Linked DNA regions of Homo sapiens. The protein of the gene in region 1 purifies or fractionates together with the protein of each later gene. This does not show direct contact. Each region holds a gene or a part of one and is shown in the gene's direction. Other genes may lie near its edges. The genes, in order: ATP6AP1 and ATP6AP2.

Region 1 (7,854 bases):
TTGGTTTCCAGGGCCTGGGAGGATGGGGGAATGAGAAATTGTATAATGGGGACAGAGCTTTAGTTTGGGAAGATGAAAAGAGTTCTGAAGATGGATGGTGGTGATGACTGTACAACAGTGTGAACGTACTTAATGCCACTGAACTGTACAGTTAAAAGTGGTTAAGGCCGGGCGTGGTGGCTCACACCTGTAATCCCAGCACTTTGGGAGGCCGAGGTGAGCGGATCACCTGAGGCCAGGAGTTTGAGACCAGCCTGGACAACATGGTGAAACCCCCATCTCTACAAAAAAAAAAAAAAAAATTAGCTGGGCATGTTGGTGGGTGCCTGTAATCCCAGCTACTCAGGAGGCTGAGGCGGGAGAATCACTGAAACCCGGGAAGCAGAGGCTTCAGTGAGCCAAGATTGTGCCATTGCACTCCAGCCTGGACAACAAGAGCGAAATTCCGTCTCAAAAAAAAAAAAAAAAAAGGCATTTCACAGAAGAGGAAACACAAAAGGCAGAGTGTGCATGGTATGGGTTTCCTGTGGCTGCAGTAACAAAGTGCCAGAGACTGGGAAGTTTAAAGCAACAGAAATTTATTCTCTCCCAGTTCTGAAGGCCAGAAGTCCGAAATCAAGGTGGCACCAGGGTGGGTTCCTTCTGGGGCTGTGAGGGAAAGCCAGCTCCAGGCCTGTCTTCTGGCTTCTTCCGGTGGTTCCCAGCAATGCTCCGTGTTCCTTGGCTTGCAGAGGTGTCATTCCAATCTCTGCCTTCAGCTGCGTGCAGTGCTCTCCTCCCTGTGTCTGTCTCTTTTTCTCCTCCTTTAAAAACACCATGCATTGATTGAACTAGGGGTCACCCTTATGCAGTATAACCTCACCTTAACTTGATTCTGTCTGCAATGACTTTTATGGGGACACTACTCAACCCAGTGCATATACTCTATGACCTAGCAATTCCCCACCTAGTTATATACCTATTGAAATGAACATCTATGTTTAACAAAAGACACATACATCGGCTGGGCGCAGTGGCTCACGCCCATAATCCAAGCACTCAGGCCGAGGCGGGCAGATCTTGAGGTCAGGAGATAGAGACCATCCTGGCTAACACAGTGAAACCCCGTCTCTACTAAAAATACAAAAAATTAGCTGGGCATGGGGGTGGGCACCTGTAGTCCCAGCTACTCAGGGGGCTGAGGCAGGAGACTGGCGTGAACCCGGAAGGCGGAGCTTGCAGTGAGCTGAGATCACGCCACTGCACTCCAGCCTAGGTGACAGAGCGAGACTCCGTCTCAAAAAAAAAAAAAAAAAGAAGAAAAAGAAAGACGTATACATAATTGTTCACAGCAGCATTAGCCATAACAGCCCAAATGGGAAACCAACCAAATGTCAACAGTTGAAGGACACAATCAATGGTGACGTATTCATCCAGGGGAATACTATGCAGCAACATTGTTACATGCAGCCACTTGAATTAATCTGCCAATGTTGAGCAAAGAATCTAGACACAAAATAATACTTCCCTTCAGAGTGGAGGAGAAGGCTGAGTGCGGTGACTCACACCTGTAATCTCAGCACTTTGGGAGGCCAAGGTGGGTGGGTCACCTGAGGTTAGGAGTTCAAGACCAGCCTGACCAACATGGTGAAATCCCGTCTCTACTAAATACAAAAAATTAGCCGGGCGTGGTGGCACATGCCTGTAATCCCAGCTACTCGGGAGGCTGAGGCAGGAGAATTGCTTGAATCCGAAGGTTGCAGTGACCCGAGATGGCGCTATTGCACTCCAGCCTGGGCAACAAGAGCCAAACTCTGTCTCCAAAAAAAAAAAAAAAAAAAAGAGTGGAGGAGGGAAAAATATTATACTGAATAATTTCCTTTATTTAAAGCCTCAAAACAGCCAAAACAACACATCCCATCATTTTTAGGAATGCATGCTTAACTGGTCAAACTATAAAGACCAAAGTGATTAGCAAAAGAATCAAGTTCATGGTCACATTGGGAAGTGATAGTAAGGGTATGAGAGGGGCTTTCAGGGCAATGATATTCAAATTCTTGACCTGGGTGATGCCATGGAACTGTCTGCTTTGATAAGCATTACACTGTACATCTTTATTTTGTGGGTTTTTTTTTTTTTTTTTTTTTTTGAGACAGAGTTTCGCTCTGTCACCCAGGCTGGATGGAGTACAATGGCATGATCTCTGGTCACTGCAACCTCTGCCTCCTGGGTTCAAGCGATTCTCCTGCCTCAGCCTCCCGAGTAGCTGGGATTACAGGCGCATGCCACCATGCCCGGCTAATTATCTTGTATTTTTAATAGAGACGGGGTTTCACCATGTTGGCCAGGCTGGTCTCGAACTCCTGCCCTCAGGTGATCCGCCCGCCTTGGCCTCCCAAAGTGCTGGGATTACAGGCGTGAGCCAATGCGCCTGGCCTACTTCTTTTCTTTTTTGGGTTACGTTTCACCATAGAAGTGCTTTTTTTTTTTTTTTTTGAGACAGAGTCTTGCTCTGTCGCCCAGGCTGGAGTGCAGTGGCACGATCTCGGCTCACTGCAAGCCCCATCTCCCGGGTTCACGCCATTCTCCTGCCTCAGCCTCCCGAGTAGCTGGGACTACAGGCGCCCGCCACCACGCCTGGCTAATTTTTCATATTTTTAGTAGAGATGGGGTTTCACCGTGTTAGCCAGGATGGTCTTGATCTCCTGACCTCGTGATCCGCCCGCCTCGGCCTCCCAAAGTGCTGGGATTACAGGCATGAGCCAAAGTGCCCGGCCCTTTTTTTTTTTCTTTTTTTTGAGATGGAGTTTCGCTCTTGTTGCTCAGGCTGGAGTGCAATGGCACGATCTCGGCTCACTGCAACCTCCGCCTCCCAGGTTCAAGCAATTGTCCTGTCTCAGCCTCCTGAGTAGCTGGGACTACAGGTGCCCGCCACCACGCCCAGCTAATTTTTGTATTTTTAGTAGAGACGGGGTTTTGCCATGTTTGCTAGGCTGGTCTCAAACTCTTGACCTCAGGTTATCTGCCCGCCTCAGCCTCCCAGTGTTGGGATTACAGGCGTGAGCCACCACGCCCAGCCAGGATTTCAATGAACAAAATGCTTTTACCCTAAAGATGAAGTCCCCAGACAGAAGGTGCTCATTGGTGCTGTCAACATTTGGTGATTGGTTCAGTTTAGATATCACCTCCTGGTGGGAGCAGCTTCATCGGTGCCCCTCTCCTTACATCCCTCCCAGTCCCATGTCTCAACCTTTGGAATATTCATGACCCTGTATCATGACCTGCTGTCCTGCATGTCCTCTAGACCAAACTGTCAACTTCCGGGGCAGAGTCCAGGTGCCTGGCCCATAGCAGGTGCTTCAGGAAGCCTCCAGGGCCATCACTCCAGGGACCCCTAGCAATGCAGGGAAGAATAAAAGCAGCCACAGGTGGGTTTCTTCCCTAAGCATGGAAGCAGCTCAGCAACAGAGTCCTGGCGGAGGCAAGATTGCCTTCCGCATTCCAGAGGAAGTATTTGCCTTGAAACTATGTAACAAAAGTAACAGAAACATAATAGACATGCTTTCCTTTTTAAGTTTGCTGGATTCTCCTGGGATACAGTGAAGCTCCAGTGAAAACCTCTCTCCTCAGCTAGTTAAGGCCTGGAAATGGCCACTTGGGGGTTTCCCTAAGCACCCGAAACTCAGTGAGCCCCCAAGTGACCTCGTCTCCCAGTCCCCAACTCAGAGAGACCCAAAAGCTACAATCTTCTTTGACTGTATTGTCAGACCCACTTCCTCTCTCCAGCTCAACTGCCACTATCCTAGTCCTAGTCTGAATCACATGTGACAATCATGACTACAATCTTTTTTTTTTTTTTTTTTTGAGATGGACTCTCACTCTGTCGCCCAGGATGGAGTGCAGTGGCGCGATCTCGGCCCACTGCAACCTCCGCCTCGCGGGTTCAAGTGATTCTCCTGCCTCAGCCTCCCGTGTAACTGGGACTACAGGTGTGCACCACCATGCCCAGCTAATTTTTGTATTTTCAGTAGAGATGGGGTTTCACCATGTTGTGCAGGATGGTCTCGATCTCTTGACCTCATGATTCGCCCGCCTCGGGCTCCCAAAGTGCTGGGATTACAGGCGTGAGCCACAGCGCCCGGCCCGTTAGGGTGTCTTTGATGCCACGCTTCGCTCTGGGTTTTCTCCTTCCTCTTTGATTGCTCCTTGTCCGATCTCTTTTCTGGACCCTTCTCCTCCTGCCCAATGTAAGTGCTGGGTGTTCCCCTAGATGCTATCCTGAGCCCGCTTCACTCCTCGTTCTAAGGGATTACAGTCTCCTCTCACCTGTATCAGGGAGGGTCCATCTGCAGGAAAAAGACACCACTTTTGCAATTTTAAGGAAAAGGATTAAAACAGGGATTGGCCGGGTGCGGCGATGCGCGCCTGTAGTCCCACTTTTCCGGAGGCTGAGGCGGGAGGATCGCTTGAGCCCGGGGACTCGAGACCAGCCTGGCCAACATAGCTAGACCCCGTCTCTAAAGAAAAAAAAAAGACAAAAGAAGAGAACAACAACAAAAAAACCAAAATAAAAATAAAAATAAAAACGGACGGGCGAACGCGTCGGGTGGGCGTAGGGTTCCGCGAAGCCTCCCTGTCCCTCTTGTCTCGTCCTAGTCGGTCTAGCTGGGCCCCATCCCCTTTCCCACTCGGAGCGTGAGCGCCTGGAGACACGTACAGCCAACCAGTGAGAAGGAGTGGCCGCGAGTGGCATGCACTTGGTCCAATTACCTGCGGCCCTGCCGGTCGGCCCGCGCTGGGGCCAATGGAGGTGCGAGGCGGGGCTCGGGCGGGGGCAACGGTCACCTGATCTGCGGCTGTCGAGGCCGCTGAGGCAGTGGAGGCTGAGGCTATGATGGCGGCCATGGCGACGGCTCGAGTGCGGATGGGGCCGCGGTGCGCCCAGGCGCTCTGGCGCATGCCGTGGCTGCCGGTGTTTTTGTCGTTGGCGGCGGCGGCGGCGGCGGCAGCGGCGGAGCAGCAGGTCCCGCTGGTGCTGTGGTCGAGTGACCGGTGAGCGGGCCGGGGTGGGATGCGCTGTGGCGGCTGAGGCGCCCTCGCCCGACTCCGGCGCTGTCCTAGGCGAGGGGTGGTGAGGCCCGGAGGTGGACTGTTCCTTGCTCGGGGGCTCGCAGCGAATCTGCCGGCGACAGAGCTCCAGTCCACATGCGCCCCCGTCTGACAGCACCTCTTCTGTGCCCTGCCAGGGACTTGTGGGCTCCTGCGGCCGACACTCATGAAGGCCACATCACCAGCGACTTGCAGCTCTCTACCTACTTAGATCCCGCCCTGGAGCTGGGTCCCAGGAATGTGCTGCTGTTCCTGCAGGACAAGGTGCGCCCGCCCCAGCCCACTCTCCCCCGGTCATCGGGAGGCAGCCAGGCCCCCTCCCCCCATGACACTGACGCCCATTCCCCAAGGGAAGCTTCAGTGACCTTGTCCCAACTGTAGGGAGGTGTGGGTCGTCTCATGGGAAGGCCTGTAGTAAACGCTTCAGTGGGCATGGCGACAGCCTCGGAAATGGCACCAACTTGATTGGAGGAAGCGACGGACCAGAGGCCAGGTACCTACTGAGTACCAAGCACTTTGGATATCTGACTTAGTCCAATATGGTGGGTGGGGATTATCGTCCCTGTTTGTTTATAGATGAGAAGACTGAGGCTGGAGGTTAAGTGACTTGTCCAAGCTCATACAGCTAATGGGTGGCAGAGTTGTAATTCTAGCTGTGATGATCATAATAATGATAATTGGAAAATGCTCACCTGTTTAGTGCTTTGTAGGCACTTGCTACACTGATGTCATTATCTTGGTTTCACTGCCAAGGAAAGTAAGGTTTGTCGAGATACAATGTTTCACTACAGTTGATAGATACCACTTTGGTTCCAGCCTGAGTCTGCCAATCCTCCCTCCCAATTGGAGCTCATAACCCGCATGCTGTTTTCCTTCCCATCCAGGATCTTTGCCCCAAAAGCAGGCGTGGAGACCATGAGATGACTCTAAGATAGCAAGTCTCTGCTAGGCCCTCCCTTGTTGGTGGCCTGTATGGCTCATTGCCCTTGTAGTCTCCCTTGGTTGCTGTGTGGGCAGATGGTGGTGGCCTGAAGTCTTTTCAGGAGGTGGTAAATAATATAGTCAAATAGGAACTGAGTCCTAGTTCTACCATGTAACCAGCCATTGGAGGCATGAAATAATCTTTGTGAATGACAGTTTCTACATCTGTAAAATGAAGACACCACCTATATCAGAGGGCTGTGAGTGGGAAATCTTTTTTTTTTTTTTTTTTGAGACGGAGTCTCGCTCTGTTGCCCAGGCTGGAATGCAGTGGTGCAATGTCAGCTCAGCTCACTGCACCCTCCGCCTCCCGGGTTCAAGCAGTTCTCTGCCTCAGCCTCCCGAGTAGCTAGGATTACAGGGCGCCCGCCACTACACCCAGCTAATTTTTGTATTTTTTTGTATTTTTAGTAGAGATGGGGTTTCACCATGTTGGCCAGGCTGGTCTTGAACTCCTGACCTCGTGATCCACCCACCTCAGCCTCCCAAACTGCTGGGATTACAGGCGTGAGCCACCGCGCCCGGCCTGTGAGGGGGAATTCTTATAATCCACATAAAACATCTAGCCAGGATCCCCCAGTCTTAGGGCATTCACCCATTCATTCATTTGCCCAATATGGAAAGCCTACTATGTGCCAGGTATTGTGAAGTGTTGGGGATATGGCAGTGAGCAGAAGAACCCAAGCCCCCACCCTCAGGAAGCTGACATTCTTGTGAGGGTGGCCAGTAAATACTAAGTCGGTATAGGATATGATGTCAGTGTTACGGCCTTTAGGGAAGGAAGCAGGCTAAGGGGACAGAGTGACTGGGATGCTATTTTAGATAAGGGTGGTCAGGCCAGGCCTCATTGAGGAGGTGATATATGAGCAGCGATCTTAATGGAGGGAGGGAGCCGTTTGGGGAAGGACATTCCTGGAACAGCAAATGCGAGGGTCCTGGGCGAGGTGTGCTCTTGGCCAGCTCAAGGAAGAGCTGGTGTGGCTGGAGCACAGTGAGTGAGAGAAAGGGGTAGGAGATGTAGGAGATGGTTTGCAGGTGGCTAGGCGATGAAGTAGGACCTTGTAGGCCATGAGGGGGAAGGTCAGTTGCAGTTCGAAATGTGTGAGAAAGCCTTGGGTAACGTGGAGCAGGGAGTGGTGTGATTTCTCAATTAAAGAAAGCCCACAGGACCCACCAGCAGTTCCTGGGCTTTCCGACTGAGAACCCCGGTGGCCAAACAGCAGCAAGGTCCTGCCCACAAGGGAGGGGAGGCTGGGCGAGTGTGTATACCAAACAGGTTAGGGAAGCTGATTAAAATCTCCTCAGGGCCTAACTGGGAAGGGCCAGAGGAAGCTGGGGATGGGAGTGGAGGGTAGGAGCAAAAGGACAAAGGACATCTGTAGGTTGTGGAGAAAAAGGGATGGGGTCGGGGCCACTGTGGTCCTAAGAGCTCAAAAGACTTCAATGCTCGATGCTTCCTCCAGCATGTTCTGAGATCCTCACCTCTCCCCTTCCGCCAAAAGCAGGTGGGGGGAGGGTCCCGTCCAGACTGGACATAGCCGACTCTCCTTTTCTCTGGCTGGGAGGCCTGCCACAAATGCTCTTGGCTGCCCCACCCCCTCCCCGCAGCTTCCCTGTTCCCTCCCCAGTTCCTCTTGTCTGTAGGGTGGGCAAGGCGGCTGACTCCTACTCCTGAGTTACCACAAGTCAGCTGCCTGCAGATCTCCCCACCCCATGACTGCCTTCCATGTCTTCTCACCCTGCCCTGAGAGTGCTGGAGGGAAGAGGTGAGTCTCCCACCCCACC
Region 2 (7,716 bases), about 110 Mb from region 1:
ACTAATCTGTAGAATTTGAGCAACTTAAAATTTTCTATTCTTCTTACAGAGAGTGTATATGGTAGGGAAGGCAAACTCAGTGTTTGAAGACCTTTCAGTCACCTTGCGCCAGCTCCGTAATCGCCTGTTTCAAGAAAACTCTGTTCTCAGTTCACTCCCCCTCAATTCTCTGAGTAGGAACAATGAAGTAAGTGCAGTTATTCAATGAATACATGAATATCATTAATTTCCGTCTTTTTAAAAAATAGAGACAGGGTCTCACTCTGTTGTCCAGGCTGGTCTTGAACTCCTGGCCTCAAGCAATCCTGTCTTGGCCTCCCAAAGTGCTGGGATCACAGGCTTGAGCCACTGCATCTGGCCTCCCATTCCTTATACTACTTGAAATTTTGGAAATTTTGCTATTTTAGAAAATGAAAGATTGTGCACATTTACTGCTGGGGTAGATTCTTCTTTAGTGTAATTTTCTTATGACTCTCATGAATAAACTGATCCTTTTTGTGAGTTGAGCTGTGGTAAATAACATCACATTTTAGCACGAGGGTTGCCACCTATTAATTCAAACAAGCCAGAGGTCATAGATCTACTTGGTGACTGGTGGAGCTGTGTGGATCTGGTAACTTGGAAGCCATTGTTCACTGCCTCTGCTGATTTGTTGCCACATTTTTCTCATTCATTCTGGACATTGCAGTGGAGGGAGCCACCTCTACTTTTGACTCCTGTCCTTCAGTTTCTCCATCTGCTCATGCGCCCTCTTAACCATGTGGCATGCCACTTTCGTGGTGGCCTCCCCTTTTTATTTGCTGTGGATGACCAGGGCCATCATCCTTTATTCTCTGATGTGGAAACTATTCAAGGGAAGTGAGCAAACTGGGCCAATGGTAGGATGTCATTGCAGAGTGCCAGGATATCCTGATGCTTTGAAGGAAAACCACTGGAGAACTTGGATGCTTTATCATGGTTTTGCCAAAAATATAGCTATTGAGTGGCAGTCACTGTGCTAGGGAATGGCCATCACCTTTTTGTTAGGAAATAATGTTTTATATGCATTTTCAATTGAAGCAAACATACCAAATGGAAGATAATTATATAAATTCACTTATATGATCAACATTTGTAATATCCTGTGCCTTGCTTGGTAAATGGCAAATAAAGATCTCTGGTGCACATTTAAAAGAATGCTCTTTTTTTTTGGGCTCTCTGAAGGTTGACCTGCTCTTTCTTTCTGAACTGCAAGTGCTACATGATATTTCAAGCTTGGTAAGTAGGCTGCTCTAATTTTTTAATTCCATTTATTTTGGTTTCTAGAGAATCCTTGAATAATAGTAAAGGCAGTTGAAAAGTTTGATTAAGTATGCCCTAGATTTATGATCCCATGAAAATTGAAAAATTAGTGGCAATATTGGGAATTTTGAACACATCCATGTTATAGTCAAATTATTTTGCATTTCTGCTTTTTAGGGAGAGACAACATATCTTCCAAGAACACAAGCCTGGGCGTAAGAACACCCTGGCCATAGTCCTAACTTGGCTGTTGATTTCTTGTGAGACTTAATTCCTATCTATATCTTTGGGCCTAAAATAGAAATAATAGTTTGGACTAATAATGCTGTCAGTCAAGTCAAGAAGGGACGAAATCCGTCTGAAGGGTATTTTTTTGGTGAATGATTTTTTAAAAATCATCCTTGTTACTGAAATAGAAATTCTTATCTGTTTGCTACCTTCTGAAGTTGTTTTCCAAACTTTTTCAACAGGTGTTGGTTCGGGGAGTCTGGAAGTGTAGTGCATTCCTGGGATCAAACTGGTCCAGCCATCTGTTCTTTCATACGTTGGCCCATACCTGAGTTTTTAAAACTGAGGAATTTTGTTGAAAGCTTTTATTAAATATCCAAGGAGTCTTGTACTGCTCCTAAACATGAGATTCGTGTTGGATTTATCAGAAACGCTTATTCAAACCAGTTTCTTTTGCCACCATTTTAGACTATTTGCATGTTGTGGTACACTGGTATGGTTTAGTTTAGCCTAGTTTAGTTAGGCATAAAACTTTAACTGGCTGTGTTTGACGTCTTTCATCTTACTTTATCCGCTACCTTTTTTTGTTTGTTTGTTCTCCTAAGCTGTCTCGTCATAAGCATCTAGCCAAGGATCATTCTCCTGATTTATATTCACTGGAGCTGGCAGGTTTGGATGAAATTGGGAAGCGTTATGGGGAAGACTCTGAACAATTCAGAGATGCTTCTAAGATCCTTGTTGACGCTCTGCAAAAGGTAAATATCAATGCGACATGAGAGGTTGGAGTATGACCATTTCACTTTTAGCCTCTTAATAGAAAAATCTGCTGTTTCAAACACTGTTGATTGAACTCTTATTTGCCTTCTTTGGGGCTCCTCTAATTATACTGGCCAAGGATGGAGTAGGGTCAAAAATGTATATTGATATATTTCTTCCTAATGCTAGAAAGAACAGCATTAGGAAAAGTTATCTCACACAAAGCTTTACAAAATTATTGTGGTAAAATATATATAACATAAAATTACCACTTTAACCATTTTTAATTGTACAGTTCAGTGGTATTAAGTGCAAGTACGTTCACATGTTGTACAACCATCACCATCTTCTATTTCTAGAACTTTTTCTTCTTCCCCAACTGAAACTCTGTACTCCTTAAACACTATGAGATAACTGAAGTAGAACACCCAGCACAGTACCAGACAGTAGATGCATAATAAATGCTAGTTCCCCTCTGCCCTTGAAGTTCTTCACCTGCATCCTTTCAGTGAGGCTTCATATTTTAATCTTTATAGATGTTTGTGATTAACCAGAGACCACTTAGGAAGATTTCATTTCTCTTTCCAACTTCCCTTCCTCCAATTTATATGCTGACAAATTCAGTCTCTTCTTAAAGTAATTTTAGTCTAAACATTTGAATATATGTTAAAGCTTAACACTTTTCTGTATAGTTGAGCAAAATCAAAACCTTTAAGACTTGCTTATTGTAAGATGTAGTATATTTCATGAGCCAGGAGGTAAGTGTACATTGTTCTTGTAGCTGCACAAAAGCTTTAAAAATAATTTTAATAAGTATGTATTTGACTCACTGCATAAAATGATAAGTAGGAGGTAATGCATATGTTAATTAGCCAATGTGGACTTAAGCCATTCCACAATGTGTACATATTTCAAAACAATATGTTGATGTGATAAATATATATGATTTTAATTTGTTAATTAAAAATGAAAAAAGTACATAGTTGAGATTCCCAATAATGTTAATAACTAACTTTCAGTTTGCAGATGACATGTACAGTCTTTATGGTGGGAATGCAGTGGTAGAGTTAGTCACTGTCAAGTCATTTGACACCTCCCTCATTAGGAAGACAAGGACTATCCTTGAGGCAAAACAAGCGGTGAGTATATTTTGAGATCCTGCTTTAAAACTGTAAAATTAACTTCTTATAAAAAAAAAAAAACCAAGTCCTATATCACCTAAGGGTGACATGAATGAGCAGTCAGTAAATCTGAAAAACAATTTCAGTTAAAACGTAAGCTTCTTGTTCACATACATATGTGTGCTTTGCCAGTGATGATCAGTTCTTTAGGGTTATAATCAGATAATGCAAGAATTTGAATTAGGGATAAAAGTAAATCTGTCCAAGATTATAATTCAAATATCAGTACACACAAGGAGATATCAGAAGTTAATGTGGCGCCAGGTGCAGTGGCGTGCATCTGTAATTGCAGCTTCTCAGGAGGCCAAGGCAGGAGGATTGCTTTAGCTCAGGAGGAGTTTGAGGCCAGTCTGAGGAAACATAGCAAGACCCTGTTTTGAAAACAAAAAGAAGTGAATGTGTGCGGGAGTGGTGTGGTGCCCACATCCTATGGGCTCTGCTTTTCTAGCAGGCACATTGTCTTTGTGGCGTAGTCCCTCACTTACTGAGATCCTCTGTGTGCACCTCTTTATGATTTTGATTTACTTAACAGTTTTTTTGGGTATGGATCTTGCTTTGATTTTAAGCATTTAGAGGGTCAGGGTTAAGCATTACCATGGTTGCTGGCCATGGTAAAATACATATCTGTTTATGTGTATGTACGTGCACATTTACATACATACATATATACTTACAGCTGCAGCAGAACCTAGGGAGGGTGATGGGAAAGAGTAGTGTAGATGCTCCCTAACATCCTACGTCTGAGAACATTGCTTAGGGCTGGCTGTATCACTTGCAGCAGATAGATATCCACTCAATTACATACACCTCCGCTTCAGACCCATTTGCAGCCCTCACCCTGCTCAGTTTTACTGAAGTCAGTGTGGGACTTGGAGTCGGAAGGTCGAAGCCAGTGCCTGTTTGAGATAGTCTAGCGATTACTGGTTTGAGATTGTTTCTTTCTAAATTAAATTGGGGATGGAAGGACCTTTGTTTCAGACAGCATGTCAGTCTAGACAACCACCCAAGATTTCCCACCATAAAACGTCTAGAAATGCTAGATAAAAATAAAGATCTTTTAAAAAGTACATAGTTTGGGCTGGGTGTGGTGGCTCACGCCTGTAATCCCAGCACTTTGGGAGGTTGAGGCGGGCGGAACACCTGAGGCCAGGAGTTCTAGACCAGCCTGGGCAACATGGTGAAACCCCGTCTCTACTAAAAATACAAAAATTAGCCTGGTGTGGTAGCGGGCACCTGTAATCCCAGCTACTTGGAAGGCTGAGGCAGGAGAATTGCTTGTACCCGGGAGGCAGAGGTTGCAGTGAGCCAAGATTGCACCACTGCACTCTAGCCTGGGAGACACAGCAAGACTCCGTCTCAAATAAAAAAAAAATTACAAAAATAAAAATACATAGTTCAGCTCGCAAGAAAGGGAAATTCTCTTACAGAGTAAATAAAGAAGAGGAGGCCGGGTGCGGTGGCTCACACCTGTAATCCCAGCACTTTGGGAGGCCGAGGTGGGTGGATCACAAGGTTAGGAGTTCGAGACCAGCCTGGCCAACATGGTGAAACTCCGTCTCTACTAAAAACACAAAAAATCAGCCGGGCGTGGTGGCGCACGCCTGTAGTCCCAGCTACTTAGGAGTCTGAGGCAGACAAATCGCTTGAACCCGGGAGGCGGAGGTTGCAGTGAGCTGAGATTGTGCCACTGTACTCCAGCCTGGGTGACACAGTGAGACTCCATCTCAAAAAAAAAAAAAAAAACCGAATGTGGTAAGCAGGCCGCCCTAAGGATATTTGCCAGCTGGGTCACCAAGAGTCCTTTGGTGCCTTGTGTGTGGGGGATGGGAATGGACAACTCCAGATAAAGCTGGGGACCCCGAGAGAGCTGTGCCCTCAGTGAGAGGGTAGACTGGAAATTTTTGCCCACCAGCACAGGGAAACAGAAAGGCACCTGGGCTCTGGGTGGTCAGCACATGTGTTGAGAGTGGGGATGCCTCCCAGAGAATTCTTTTTTTTTTTTTTTTTTTTTTTTTTTTGGATTTTTTGGAGATAGGATCTTACTCTGTCACCCAGACTGGAGTGCAGTGGCACAATCTCAACTCACTGCAGCCTCCACCTCCCAGATTCAAGTGATTCTCCTGCCTCAGCCTCCTGAGTAGCTGGAATCACAGGCATGCACCACCACACCCGGCTAATTTTTGTACTTTTAGTAGAGATGGGGTTTTACCATGTTGGCCAGGCTGGTCTTGAACTCCTGGCCTCAAGTGATTTGCTCACCTCAGCCTCCCAAAGTGCTGGGATTACAGGTGTAAGCTACCATGCCCGGCCTATGAGATTTCTTTTTAGGGTGATAGAAATGTTCTAGAATTAGATTGTGGTGATAACTATGAAACCACTAAAATTCCTTGACTTGTACACTTAAAATGGGTAGGAAAAAGAACATGTTTATCAAAAAAAAAAAAAGGAAAGAAACAAAGAGGTCTTCATGGGCGTGAAATCCTTTAACGTTTGCCTCAGCTCTGAGCTCCCCGCAGGTAAATATGCATGCCTGTGTACCCATTCTCTCCTACATTTGAAATCACTCTCTTCCATTAGTTTAAGGAGACAGGAGTTTAAGGAACATTTACTGAGTACTCACAACATTCCAGGTGCTGGGGCTGTAGGGACAAATAGATCTCGGTTACATTTTCGTTCTCATCCTCACTGCCAGGCACCCTGCCCCCATTTCTCCCACCTCATTTGACTGCCGCCTCCTAACTTGTCTGAACTCATCTGTCTCTCTGCTTCCCAGCTGGCTCCTCCCAAATCCATCCTACACATTGTCATCAAAGTTATCTTTTTTCTTTTCTTTTTTTGAGACAGGGTCTCGCCCTGTCCCAGGCCGGAGTGCAGTGGCGCAATCATAGCTCACTGTAGCCTCAAACTCCTGGGCTCAGGTGATCCACCTGTCTGAGCCTCCTGAGTAGCCAGTTCTATAGGCTTGAGCCACCACACTCAGCTAATTTTTAATTTTAATGTTATCTTTTTAAGACAAACCTGATCATGTCACTCACTTTCTGCCTAAAGCTTGTCAATGGCTCCTTATTGCCCAGAGGCTCATGTCAGATTTTCTGTAGCTTCCCTGCTTCTAGCTTCATCTCCTGCTGTGTTCCTACTTTTAAAATTCTCTAGCCAGAATGAATGATATTTCCCAAACAGTGCCTTTGTCAGAATGAATTCAGTTTCCCAAACAATGTTTTTACACAGCTCTGTATTTTAAAAAAAAGTGTTAAGTGGATCATACATACATAAGTATATAACATATTTAATACTAGTTATTTAAATAATAAAAATAATAACACTGTATAGCTCCGTTTTCATATGGCTATAAAGAGCTACCTGACACTGGGTAATTTATAAAGGAAACAGGTTTGATTGATTCACAGTTCCACATGGCTGGGGAGGCCTTAGGAAACTTACAATCATGGAGGAAGGGGAAGGGGAGGCAGGCACCTTCTTCACAAGGTGGCAAAAGAGAGAGAAAGTGGCACACTTTTAAACCATCAGAGCTCATGAGAACTCAGTATCATGAGAACAGTATGGGGGAAACTGCCCCCATGATCCAATCACCTCCCACCAGGTCCCTCTCTCGACACGTGGGGATTACAAATCGAGATGAGATTTGGGTGGGGACACAGAGCCAAACCATATCAATAGCTTAAGAGAATGCTTGCTTCTTTGAAGCTCCCTATTTTCTCCCTCTACCCTCCCTCATCCAGAGGTAACTGCTGTCCTGGATATCATGTTAATCCCTTGCTTTTCTTTACAGATTGACTGCATATGTATTTGTTCTTAAACAGTGTTGTTTGGTTTTGCCTGTATTTGAATTTTATATAAATTGAATCATACTACATGTATTTTTCTGTGTTCTTTGTTCAGTATTCTTTTTAAGATTCACTCAGGCTGACAAATGTAGCTGTAGTTTAGTCATTTTACTGTTACATATTCTGCTTGTAGGGATATACCACAATTCCATTCTGTTGATGATTTTTTTTTTTTTTTTTTTGAGACGGAGTTTTGCTCTTGTTGCTCAGGCTGGAGTGCAATGGCACAGTCTTGGCTCACTGCAACCTCCACCTGCTGGGTTCAAGCAGTTCTCCTGCCTCAGCCTCCCGAGTAGCTGGGATTACAGGCACCTGCCACGCCTGGCTAATTTCGTATTTTTAGTAGAGACGGGGTTTCACCATGTTGGCCAGGCTGCTCTGGAACTCCTGACCTCAGGTGATCTGCCCGCCTTGGCCTCCCGAAG

What was found.
Region 2: the proteins of ATP6AP1 (region 1) and ATP6AP2 purify together in Homo sapiens (affinity purification with mass spectrometry; 7 studies listed by BioGRID and IntAct, with this or other methods). This does not show direct contact.

The regions. Positions count from the first base shown.
Region 1 is NC_000023.11:154,423,823-154,431,676, forward strand, and holds the start of ATP6AP1 (V-type proton ATPase subunit S1 precursor), read left to right. Parts: upstream 1-4,854; 5' UTR 4,855-4,870; coding exon 4,871-5,031; intron 5,032-5,225; coding exon 5,226-5,352; intron 5,353-7,854. UniProt on the Homo sapiens protein: Accessory subunit of the proton-transporting vacuolar (V)-ATPase protein pump, which is required for luminal acidification of secretory vesicles.
Region 2 is NC_000023.11:40,597,478-40,605,193, forward strand, and holds part of ATP6AP2 (renin receptor precursor), read left to right. Parts: intron 1-49; coding exon 50-187; intron 188-1,203; coding exon 1,204-1,257; intron 1,258-2,114; coding exon 2,115-2,264; intron 2,265-3,284; coding exon 3,285-3,404; intron 3,405-7,716. UniProt on the Homo sapiens protein: Multifunctional protein which functions as a renin, prorenin cellular receptor and is involved in the assembly of the lysosomal proton-transporting V-type ATPase (V-ATPase) and the acidification of the endo-lysosomal system.